Regions from separate parts of the Homo sapiens genome. Here regions 2 and 3 are each linked to region 1. Evidence: fine-mapped expression QTL. A gene starts in region 1. Each other region holds a variant in brackets. All regions are shown on one strand. Distances are between the middles of the regions. Region 1 holds the start of ZZZ3 (zinc finger ZZ-type containing 3). Region 2 overlaps AK5 (adenylate kinase 5). Region 3 has its middle 8.8 kb from the start of MIGA1.

Region 1 (4,000 bases):
GACACCGCGCCCGGCCTCCCCCACCCCCGTTTTTTTTTGACATACTGCCACCCAGAAACACTAGTATGTTCAATAAATACTTGATGTGTTAAAAACATGTAACCCTTTTTCTTGAAGTAGATGTTACTTTGAGTTGAACTCAAAGCTAAAATACAAAACACCATTTAAAACATTTAATAACTTTTATTAGCAACATAAAAGAAGGCACAACACGTATCCACTTGCCCGAAAAAAAAAATAGTGTTGCAAAGGAAAACAAAAGTAATGAAACAGCACTGGACAATTGTCAAAGAAGAGCCCCAGTTAACGGCTTCTACCACTGGATTTTATATTTTTGGAACATAATCTTTATAGCCACGGAAGGAGGTTTAGCTGTTTTTCCACAGCTCATAAATGATGAAGTTATTTATCTTCATTAATGTGTGTTGGGCTTTATTTTCCTACATGCTCAATATAGTTGGTAGATCTGTTTTGATATTACTGAGCACTGCTTTGTGCCAGACACAATTCTGGGGATACAGCAATGAGCAAAACAGTTTACTAAGTCCCTGCTTTTAAAAATTTTACATTTCTGGTGGTGAGGATACTGACAAATAAGGTCTGGAAGTTGTAACTGTTATGAAGAAATAAAAGCAGGTGAAGAGTTAAAGCAATGGTGCAGGTGTACTTTTTTTGGATACAGTGGTCTGGGCAGCCCTCTGAGAAGGGACCTGAAATATGCATCGAACATCGAGGAGTTAAAAAAAATCTGGAGGAAATGTTCTGCCAGAGAAATCGGCAAGCACAAAGGCCCGAAGTGGTTCGAGCCTGCGTGCTGTGGTACAAGCCAGAGGTGAACGAGGCGAGGCAGAAGCACGATCATAAATACATGTATGGATGTTCTCCTGGCTTGAGACCACAGTGCTAAGGGAGGTGGGGTTTACAAATCTCTCAGGAGGCCACAAAGGGCAGGATGAAGCCGATTTCCAATGGCGGAGCTACGAGGACGCCTTTCCTCTGCTAGGGCCAGGTTGGACGGTTGCAAGGGATGGACTGCAACCCGCCCTCGGAAGACCAAACTTCGCCCAGGGGCAGGGACTGGCCGGGGAGGGCCTCGGCGGCGCCCGACCCGCGGGCGCTGCACGGGCCGCGGTTACCAGCAGGCGGTGTAGTGAGCGCGCCTGCAGCAGCAGCAACAGCAGCAGCAGCGGTCGCCGCCGCCGCCGCCGCCCGCCAGTCCCAACGAGGAGAAAGGAGGGGACCGGAAGGAGCCGCTGGTGCTGCGGGAAGTGGCAGGAGCGGGAGGCGGGGACCCACCTGGAAGCGCCGCGGCGCCGCTATCGAGCTTCCTGCAGCGGTGGCCACCCGAGCAAGTGCCGTGGCGGGGGCGGAGAGCGGCCACGGCGGCGGCGCCTCCCCAAGTGGCCCGTTGCGTCCGACCCCGCGTGAAAGGTGAGCAAGAGCTCGGGACACGTGGTGAGGGCCAGACACGGGGGAGGGAGAATGAAGGGGGAGGGAATGGGGGTGGGAAACGATCGGCTTGGGACCCGGATTTGGAGCCAAGTACCGGGAGGGGGTGGGCTGGAGGCGACGACTGCGACGGCTGCGACGGCTGCGACGGCGAAGCCCCCACGTGGGGCGGGGGTGCGCGCGCACGTGTGCGCGGGCGAAAGGGGGGGCGGGGAGGGCTTTTGGGAGGGCGTCGGGAGCGCGCTCGCTCAGTAGCGGCCCACGTGACGGGCACGCCGAAAATGTTTCCACGTGACAGGGAGGCTGCCTGGGGCAGCGCACTGCGCTCTGTTTATGTAGTATAATCGTGGTAATCGGAGGTTTTTAAGATTTCTGCTTTTCTGTACAAGGGGAAAGGAGGAGACGTATAAAGCGGAAAGACTTCCTACTGTCTCAGTGTTTTAAATGTTCACTACTCCGTTAGTGAAGTGCTTTTTAAGTTCCGAAATACTGATTTTTTTCTGTACCGCCATGTTGGGTCTAGTGGAAGCTCGCGAGATGCGAGTGGGTTTGTATCGCGAGATCTCTCGATTCTCGCGGGACCTCGTTGGCAGAGCAGTTGTCCTGGATGGCGGAGCCTTGGGTTCCGGGGGCCTGGGACCTGCAACTCTTTCTACAAGGCAAGTCGTTAGGGAGGGGCCCGGGGCGAGTGCCTCTTGGTGCCGGGATACGTGCTGCATCAGCTTCCCATAGTCTTGAAGGGAATACAGTAACCCCATTGAGGCAACACTGCCCTCCCCATCCCCCTGCGGGCGCTCCACCACCTGCAAAAGCATATGCACCCCTCAGCCAGGTCCTTCTCCCCACGCAGTGATAGTTCCACCCTGTCCCACTCACTGGAAGTCCGGGAGCCGTGCTCGCGCAGACCTGATGATTCCATTGGATACCGTTCCTCTTACTTTAAGATGTTCTTGTCAGTTTTTCCCTTCTTGCCATTTTCTAAAGTATTCCAGACCGGTTAACTATTGTGTCGCGTTTTCTGCTGCAGTACCTGACTCCAGTCTCCTGAAACAGAACTCCTCCCATCTATTTTCTCTGGGTGTCATTTACTCATCACCCTGACTTCGTATTTTCAGTAACTTTTGGCAGTATTTGGAGGGCCCATTATGTCTCTGACAACACCTGTGGTCAGAATAAAATCCTGCTTTTCATCATTTTGTACGTGCCTATTAACTCAGTTATCGGTAGGGTTTTAATTACTACTGTGTTACTGAGGTTGCCATCTTTGAAGTTTAGGGATGGTTGTTTTAGGTTATATATTTAAGGTAACAGACTGTTTCATGTGATTTTTTTTTTTTTTTTTTTGAGACGGAGTCTCGCTCTTGTCGCCTAGGCTGGAGTGTAGTGGGGCGATCTCGGCTCATTGCAACCTCCGCCTCCCGGGTTCAAGCGATTCTCCTGCCTCAGCCTCTCGAGTATCGAGTAGCTGGGATTACAGTCGCGCTTCACCACGCCCGGCTAATTTTTGTGTTTTTAGTAGAGACGGGGTTTCACCATGTTGGCCAGGCTGGTCTCAAACTCCTGACCTCAAGTGATCCACCTGCCTTGGCCTCTCAAAGTGCTGGGATTTCAGCACTGTACAGGCGTGAGCCACCGCGCCCGGCCTCAGGTCAACTTTTTAGTAAAGAGCAAACTCATAAATTTTGGCATCAGAGTTTGAGCTTTATTTTTCTTAAATGAGTTTGAAATCAATTTAATATTTCTCTCCAATTCCCTAATGTCTCAGAAGTGAATTTACAGTATACCTTTGTTTTTTCGTATTCTTAAGTAGTATTTGGATTTTATTTAGTAGTTGCAGTACTAAATAAGGAGTGGGGAGTTAATTACAAAACGAATCAGGTGACTAGTTAATTTATTCATAGTTTGTTTTTTAAAACTACAAAAGTGTTTTTTTTTCCTATACATAATACAGAGAGGTATATAGTATAGAGTAACACAGTGCTTGTTTCACGGTACCACAAAGTTCCATTCCTCAGTCTTAAATCTCTGTAACCAGCCTTTGTGGTTGCTGTGTATCATTCCAGATATTTCCATATTTTGGTTTAGTTTTTGTTTCTTAAATGAAGGGGAGAAAGTGTTGTTTTAATGGGGTACCAACACAATATTGGCAATCAGTAAACATTTTTTAACTAAATTAAATTTTTATTTAGTGATATATGCCTGTTTGTCAAGACTTACGTATGCATACTTACGCAGATTTTTTTTGTTTGTACTGATTTTTTTGGTAGTATAATCTTGTGAAAATATCACAAGTAACTTATTTTTGCAGTAAAGTTGATTTATTGTGCTTGGTAGCTTTGCACAGAAAGAAAGTACATGTAAAACAAGATTTAAATAAATTAATGTTTTATCACTTGAGTTTTATATTTTTATCTTTAATGTGTGTTATGTATTTAACTTTATATATTATATATTCTAAACTGTAACCTAACTATATAGGAGTTTTTCAGACGTTTTAAAAGTTTATCACTGTGATTAAAATGATAGTTTGACCATGCAACTTAGTGATCTC
Region 2 (4,352 bases), 120 kb after region 1:
AGTTATCCTGTCTTCCATTTATTTTATTTGTACATATCCATTTCAAGAAAAAAAAATGACTTAAAAAATACAATTCTATCCCAGAAATGGATCCTTATCTGCACAGCCATTGAAGAAAAAAAAAAAAATTCATGCAAACTGAAACTATGCTTTTTTGTAGTGACTGAGTGGAAGATGCAGTTATTCCAGTAGAATATATAAGCAGCTCTGATTTTACAACTGATTGATAGCACAAAAGAGAACCCAAACTTCACTGGTTTAATGCAAGGAAACACAGTTTTGCATATGGGTATGACAAGGTTTGCAAACTCCTGGAAAGGGCCCATATGAAACAAACACATTGAACACACCACTTACTGACATGCCCCTCCCACCCACATCAGGTTTGTTAGGGTATTTTTTTACTTGCTTGGCAACAAATAAATACATGGGTGACCATTTAAAATCAAAATTATAATTTGATATGTGCCCAATGAATGAAATAGCAAATATCTCATGCTTTTAAGTTACTTTTGGTCATTTATATTAATTTATAATTGCTGAAATGCATCACCATGTAGAGAAGAGACTAGGTTACACAATTTATCAGATTTGTTCTCTTAGCCATGACGACAGTATTCCAAGTTTCTAAAAAATAATAATAATAGAGAAGGTTACTGATGACTAACCTGGGTTTTACCATCATCTTGGGAAAGCTATACATCTTCATATTTTAAAATTTCTGTCAAATTTTACTTGCTTGATGCCTCTATATCATGTACAAGGCATTGTGTAATCAACCCACCTTATGGCTCTGAGCCACCAGTGGATGAGAGTTGACAAAACAGCCAGACACCAAAGGAAGATGCCCAGGGCTGTCCCCTATGCCAGGGGCCTCCATTGGGGAACAGTATGTAAGAGGAAGGTGTGACTGGGGGTTAGGGATGCTTAATGAGAGGAGAACCAGATGATCAGGGTCTAGCAAGGCCTGTGATCACAACGGACACAGACTGGCACCGCACCACTGTTCATGTACTGACTAGCTCTGAGTGTGGCCTGCATGATACAAAGTGTGTGTGCCGTGAGTGCAGACAGTTGTCTGAAGTGTGGAGAATAGGTTGATATAGTCCCAAATACACCATGCATGATTTCCAGACACCTCTCACACAGGTCTAGCTGGGAAGCAAACAGTGCTGTCAGGATTTAGGAGGTGGTGGTTGGTGGGGGCGGTGACACAAAAGGTTTAACTTGAAACATTGTGTTAAGGAATGAACTTTTTAATGTTTTTCTGTTTCCATTCTAACAAACATGCATTTTTGCCTTCAGAAAATAGAGTCAATAGCTGTGCAGAGTTGAAGAAAAACGTCCTCTGGTGTTCCCTCTGCATTTATCTATATTTAAAAGGAAAAAAAGAGAGTTAGTCTGAAATATCTGTAAATCATGTTTAATAATGAAAGAACACTATCACTTGCTCATAATTTGCTCTGCAAAATTTTAAAACACAAGACCCCCCCCAAAACACAGAGAAAAAAGTGAAGAGTAGTTTTAAAACTAGGTGTCTCAATTAAAAAAACAATGAAGTACCACTACACATCTATTAGAATAGCCAAAATCCAAAGCACTGACACCGCCAAATGCTGGTGAGGACATGGAGCAATAGGAACTCTCACTCATTGCTTGTGGGAACACAAAATGGTACACCCACTTCAGAAGACACTGCAGTTTCTTAAACTGAACATACTCTTACCATACTTTTTAGCAATTGCACTTCTTGGTGTTTACCCAAATGAGCTGAAACCTGAACATCTACCCAAAAACCTGCATATGGATGTTGACAGCAACTTCATGCATAATTGACAAAACTTGGAAGCACCCAGGATGATCTTCAGTATTTTAATGGATGGATAAACTGATATATCCAGATGGACAGGGGAATATTATTCAGCACTAAACTTAAATATATATTACTCAGTGATACAAGCTCCTCTGAAGAGGGTACATATTGTATGGTTCCAATTATATGACATTCTGGAAAAGTCAAAACTGGAGGCAGGTTTAAAAAGATCAATGATCGATGAACAGAGGGCGGTGGGGGGTGGGATGAGTAGGTAGAGCACAGGATTTTTAGAGCAGTGTAACTAGTATATGGGAACTCTATGCCCAATTCTGCAGTGAAGCTAAGACTTCTCTAAAAAGGAAAGTCTATTTAAAACAATAAGTGCCTATTTAGGTAAAACATTGCTAGGGGTCATGGAAAGACTTCGGAGTTACTTAAAATGAGACTTCTGAGTGTTCTGCAGCATTTGGGAATAGGGGAGAGATTGAGGGATGAGGGAGAGAGATGTGGAGAAGAAAGCAAAAGACTAGGACCGCAGTGTGTAGGTGTGCTAAGGTAGAGTCCGCTTGGAGACTGTTGGCATGCTAGCCCAAGGAGGACATATGAAGGGAAGCTGATTTTCTGGGCACGAAAGTACTGCCCCTTCTCCTCTCCTAACGCACCCACC[G/A]CTGAGATTTGTTCCATTACACCTGTATCATCTACAGAAAGTAAAGGCCTGGCCAAGCACGGGAAGCACCTGGGAGGCCAGGGAAATGCTGGTGGTATGCATCAACTTCCATGAGTGTCACCCAGGTTACTTTGGTAAAGTTGGTTATGAGGCATTACCTCTTAAAGAGAAACCAGAGCTTCTGCCCAACTCTTGACCTTGACAAATGTGGACCTTGGTCAGTCAGGAGACATGAGTAATCACACGCTGACAAAAAAAAATAATAATAAATAAAACAGGCTGGAGCTGCTCCCATCATTGATGGAGTGCTATGGGCTACTGCAGAATTCTGAGGAAGGGAAACTCCCAAAGTAGCCTGCTGTCACGAAGGCCAAGTTCTTCGGCAGGAGAGCTGGGAGAAGATTAAGGGTGTATATGTGGGGGGAGGTAGGGAGGCTGTGTTCTGGTGGCTTCAAGCCACAAGGAGGGAGCTTAACTAAATGCTAACAAACGAAAAAAGGAAAAAAAAAAGGTAGAGGGTTGGTGATCTACATGAGTCATGTGGGGGGCGGGCGGTGGTAAGCTTGCTAAAACACAGCTTTCCAGGCCATAACTGCAGAGGGTCTTGGTTGGTGGGTTTGGGCTGGGTCTTTAATCTGTATATTTAACAAATTCTCCACATGATTTTGTTGTGGGCCATCTTGGAGCACACTTTGAGAAACACAAAGTTTTCAAACACACATTTACAAGCACACTTTGAGACTCTTGTCTACCTATTTAAATCTTCTTTGTGCAAACTAGTTTGAATTTTTCTTCCCCTAGGGCTTTCACTGCTTCCAGAGGTAGAGTGAATTCTCAACAATATCAACAAAAAGAATGCTGCATGTTCAGATAGTGGAGAAAATGGATACAACAATATTAACGGAAGCACTGTTTGTCGTTCCCCAACTGGAAAAATCCTGTATGTCCATTAGCAATAGATGGATAAATTGTGACATAGTCATATAATGGAATACTATAGTAATTAAAAGAAAAAGAACCACAGCTATCTTCAACAACATGGATTAATTTCACAAACTTGAGAGACACAAGCCAGTCTCAAGAATATGAATACAGTATGGTTCAGTTTATATAAGGTTCAAAAACAAAGCTATATTGGTTAGGGATCCATACATAGGCAATAAAGTCATAAAGAGAAGCAAGGAAATGATTATCACGAAATCCAGGACATGAGTTACTTCTTGGGGAGAGGAAGGAAGCTGTGACAGGGGAGACATATGGGGAGGGTGGAGCTTCTGCAACTCTCTTCTATTTCTTTTCCTGCATGGTGGTTACATGAGTGTTCATTTTATTCCTCAAACTCTACATACTACTTTTATGCATTCCTGTATGTATGATATAGCCCACAATAAGGAAAAAATAAGTTTTTTTAAAGTTCTTTTTCCCCTCTCATAAATATACTTCATCCTTACAGGAGACTCAAAGATAGCAATCTGCAATTTGTCTGTCCAGCTACAGGTTCTACATCTGGATGGTAGGGGCTTTGCCTTTGCCATGTTCATGGCCCCCACAGCACCTTGCTTATTGCTTTACTTCTTTCTTCTTTTCCTTTCAACCAACAAGCATTTCCTGGTTATCATCAATGTTTTGCAGTTAACCAAGTTGAACGAGAAACAATGGTCCTGTTTTCCAAGAGCTCACGCTCAGTGGTAGAGATGAACATTCAACAGGAATTTACACTGTTAGGAGATAAGCACAGGAGCTATAAGGGCACCTTCCATAATGTGGGGAGGGCAGAGAAGCTTTCTGAGGAAAGTAATAATTGTCATCATTTAAAATGATAAATATTACTAGTAATGGCACAGGAATGCTTTTTAAATAACCAAAGTA
Region 3 (4,352 bases), 88 kb before region 1:
ACCAGTTGAATAAAAGTGCACACCTTAAAAAAAAAAAAAAAGAACATAGAACAATCCTGGCACATATTTCTAAGATATATGGCATATTAAATGAGACCCTTCAGTGCGTCTTTTAACAGAGGCTCCAAAGCTGAGAAAAATAAATGTGAAGTACCCTGAGCATTCTAAAAGAGGATGCCAGACCATCCCCATAGGACATGCTGGAAGACTGTGAAGCCAGTTTAGCAATCCTCAGTTCTCACACACCTCCCAGGAATGATATGTCAGGATTGATGAAAGAAGGTTGTAGAATAAACATGCCTGGAAGGGCCAGGCTTGGTGGCTCATGCCTGTAGTCCCAGCACTTTGGGAGGCTGAGGCAGGTGGATCACTTTGAGCCCAGGAGTTCAAGACCAGCTTGGGCAACATGATGAAAACCAGTCTCTGTAAAAATGCAAAAACTAGCTGGGTGTGGCTGGGCACACCTGTAGTGTCAGCTACTCGGGAGGTTGCGGTGGGAGGATGACATGGGAGGGTGATGGCATGAGCCCAGGAGATGGAGGTTGCAGTGATCCAAGATCGTGCTACTGTACTCCAGCCTGGGTGACAGAGCCAGACCCTGTCTCAAAAAAAAAAAAAAAAAGCCTGGGAGACAGTTTTCTGGAGTGCTGTGCATTTTTGTTCCCCTTCCCCAGGAGTGGGAAGAAGAGAGTGCTTATCCCACGCCATCTCCACCTCAAGCCAAGTAAAGGAACTTTAAGAAATTCAGACAGGTTGACTCTGTGCCCTGGATTTATGTTACCTGGAAAAGTCTAAAAGCAATAGGCTATCTAGAGAAGCCTTTGATGGCAGAACAGAGAGAGAGAGAGGCCTACAACAGAAGGGGCCTGTACTTGCAACTTTGCAAGAAAAATTTTCCTGTGGACCATGTGAGTGTCACAGAATGTAGCCAGGCTTGAATTATATTAGAAGGTTGTATCTTCAAACCAGGTTTAAATTGACCATCTAAATGTTCAGCCACAGGTTTTTTTGTCCAGGATTGGGGAATGAAACAGTAAGAGGTCCCCAGCAAAGGAGACAGTCATTGAGGAACATACAAAAGGGACAAGAAAAGAGCCAGCATCTAGGAGTGAGCCACATGCAGAAGGTACCAAAGTCAGACTTGTTTTTATTTATTTATTTAGATAGAATCTCGCTCGCTCTGTCACCCAGGCTGGAGTGCAGTGGCACAATCTTGGCTCACTGTAACCTCCACCCCCTGGGTTTGAGTGATTCTCCTTCCTCAGCCTCCCAAGTAGCTGGGACTACAGACTCATGCCACCACATCCAGCTAATTTTTCTTTCTTTCTTTTTCTTTTTTTTGAGATGGAGTCTCGCTCTGTCGCCCAGGCTGGAGTGCAGTGGCGTGGTCTCGGCTCACTGCAAGCTCCTCCTCCCGGGTTCAGGACATTCTCCTGCCTCGGCCTCCCGAGTAGCTGGGACTACAGGCGTCCGCCACCATGCCAAGCTAATTTTTTGTATTTTTAGTAGAGACGGGGTTTCACCATGTTAGCCAGGATGGTCTTGATCTCCTGATCTTGTGATCTGCCCCCCCTTGGCCTCCCAAAGTGCTGGGATTACAGGCATGAGCCACCGCATCTGGCCCTAATTTTTGTATTTTTAGTAGAGATGGGTTTCACTATGTTGGTCAGGCTGATCTCAAACTCCTGACCTCAAGTGATCTGCCCACCTCGGCCTCCCAAAGTGCTGGGATTACAGTCGTGAGCCACCGTGCCCAGCATCAAAGTCAGATTTAATTGCACTGGTTGGGTATATCTGATA[C/T]TTTATTTAGAATAGTTAGGGTCGGCCGGGCGCGGTGGATCACAGCTATAATCCCAGCACTTTGGGAGGCCGAGGACGGGCGGATCACAAGGTCAGGAGAGCCAGACCATCCTGGCTAACACCGTGAAACCCCGTCTGTACTAAAAATACAAAAAATTAGTCAGGCGTGTTGACGGAGGCCTGTAGTCCCAGCTACTCGGGAGGCTGAGGCAGGAGAATGGCGTGAACCTGGGTGGCGGGGCTTGCAGTGAGCTGAGATCGCGCCACTGCATTCCAGCCTGGGCAACAGAGCGAGACTCCGTCTCGAAAAAAAAAAAACTAAGAATAGTTAGGGTCACTGCTCATTCCATCTGAAACAATATGTGGCCAATGTACTTCATGAATGATTGATTAGTGGAAACAACATTTATCAAGTGACGACATTAAGCCTGAAGAAAGAAGTCTAGCACATTGAGGTTGTAAAAGCAATTATATCACCTAAGTAGATGAACACTTTTAGGTAATTTGTAGCTCCAATTACTTTTTCTACTAACTGCAAAAACTTGGCAGTCCCCAGAAATACCTCAGGGCCTCCTTTCAAATATATACAATGCTATAGGTCACATATTGGCCATTATAGCTTTAGTCTCACTAACCTCTGAAAGTATTTTACAGGACCCTTCTATGAGTCAGAACTAAGCTAACCAAGGCATCTAGAACTCAAAGTATGGTTTTAGATGCTAATTTAGAACATCTATTCAGAGTATAGTGGTATGTACATATCCAAATACTACAGATTCAGTTCCTCAAAACGTTAAATACAGAGTTAGCATATGGTCCAGCAATTCTACTCCTAGGTAATACCCAAGAGAAATGAAACATACGTTCATACCAAAACTTGTACATGAATATGCATAGCAGCATTATTCTTTTTTTTTTTTTTGAGACATAGTCTCACTCTGTCACCCAGGCTGGAGTGCAGTGGCACGATCTCGGCTCACTGCAACCTCTGTTTCCCAGGCCCAAGTGATTCTCCCATCTCAGCCTCACGAGTAGCTGGGATTACAGGCACCCGCCATCATGCCAGCTAATTTTTGAATTTTTAGTAGAGAGTGGGTTTCACCATGTTGGCCAGGCTGGTCTCAAACTCCTCGCCTCAAGTGATCCTCCAGCCTGGGCCTCCCAAAGTGCTGGGATTACAGGCGTGAGACATCGTGCCTTGCCTAGCAGCATTTTTCTTTTCTTTTTTTTTTTTTTGAGATGGAATCTCACTCTGTTGCCCAGGCTGGAGAGCAGTGGTGCAATCTCGGCTCACTGCAAGCTCTGCCTCCCGGGTTCACACCATTCTCCCGCGTCAGCCTCCCGAGTAGCTGGGACTACAGGCGCCTACCACCATGCCTGGCTAATTTTGTTTTTGTATTTTTAGTAGAGACAGATTTTCACCGTGTTAGCCAGGATGGTCTCTATCTCCTGACCTCATGATCCACCCGCCTCGGCCTCCCAAAGTGCTGGGATTACAGATGTGAGCCACCACGCCCGGCCTCAGCAGTATTCTTAATGGCCAAAACATAGAAACAACTCAAATGTCCATCAACTGATGAATGAATAAATAAAATGTGATATATTCATGTGATATTATTTGGTCATAAAAAGGAATAATGAACTGATAAATGTTATAACATGGACGAATCTTTAAAACATTATGTTAAGTAAAGAAGCCTGTCAGGTGGGGCACGGTGGCTCACGCCTGTAATCCCAGCACTTTGGGAGGTGGAGGTGGGCAGATCATTTGAGGTTAGAAGTTCAAGACCAGCCTGGTCAACATGGTGAAACCCCATCTCTACTAAAAATATAACAATTAGTCGGGCATGGTGGTGTGCACCTGTAGTCCCAGCTACTTGGGAGGCTGAGGCAGGAGAATGGCTTGAACTCAGGAGGTGGAGGTTGCAGTGGCCAAGACTGCACCACTGCACTCCAGCCTGGACGACAGAGGGAGACTCTGTCTCAAAAAAAAAAAAAAAAAAAAAAAAAGCCTGTTACAAAGACTGTATATTGTATATGGTTCTAATTATATGCAATGTCCAGAATAGGCAAATCTATACAAAGAGGAAGCAGCATAGTGATTGCCTAGAGCTGGGAGAGTTGAGGGGAAATTTAAGTGACTGCAGAAGGATACAGGGTTTCTTTCGGGAATGGTGAAAATGTTCTAAATTTATTTATTTATTTTTTATTTTTATTGTTTATTTTTATTTATTTACTTATTTTTGAGACGGAGTTTCCTTCTGTCACCTAGGCTGTAGTGCAGTGATGTGATCTCAGCTCTCTGCAACCTCTGCCTCCTGGGCTCAAGCAATCCTCCCGCCTGAGCCTCTTGAGTAGCTGGGACTACAGGTACATGCCACCATGCCCGGCTAATTTTTGTATTTTTTGTACAGACAGGGTTTCTCCATGTTGGCCAGGCTGGTCTCGAACTCCTGACCTCAAGTTATCCTCCCAGTTTGATCCTTTTTCAAAGAGAGAGAGAGAGAGAGACATCTGTGTTCTATTGGAAGGTATTTACATCAAAATGTAAA

Evidence for each region. PIP is the estimated chance that this variant, and not a neighbour inherited with it, causes the effect. A credible set is the group of variants that fine-mapping cannot tell apart.
Region 2: its variant is the best candidate, but not a certain one, in a credible set for the expression of ZZZ3 in whole blood (TOPMed, PIP 0.83).
Region 3: its variant is the best candidate, but not a certain one, in a credible set for the expression of ZZZ3 in lung (TOPMed, PIP 0.50).

What each region holds. Positions count from the first base shown.
Region 1 is chr1:77,680,693-77,684,692 of GRCh38, reverse strand. It overlaps ZZZ3 (zinc finger ZZ-type containing 3), which reads left to right and starts at 2,035. Exons shown (of 15, transcript NM_015534.6): 1 at 2,035-2,108. RefSeq lists enhancers at 780-879, 309-1,082, 1,900-1,979 and silencers at 1,030-1,089, 1,100-1,519.
Region 2 is chr1:77,555,620-77,559,971 of GRCh38, reverse strand. AK5 (adenylate kinase 5) reads right to left here. Exons shown (of 14, transcript NM_174858.3): 14 at 6-1,370. The coding sequence ends at 1,302. Among named protein-coding and RNA genes, the nearest start is that of ZZZ3, 120 kb to the left of the region's middle. The variant G/A (reference allele first, on the strand shown) is at 2,484.
Region 3 is chr1:77,768,655-77,773,006 of GRCh38, reverse strand. No RefSeq gene overlaps it. Among named protein-coding and RNA genes, the nearest start is that of MIGA1, 8.8 kb to the left of the region's middle. RefSeq lists enhancers at 2,089-2,278, 2,759-2,988. The variant C/T (reference allele first, on the strand shown) is at 1,801.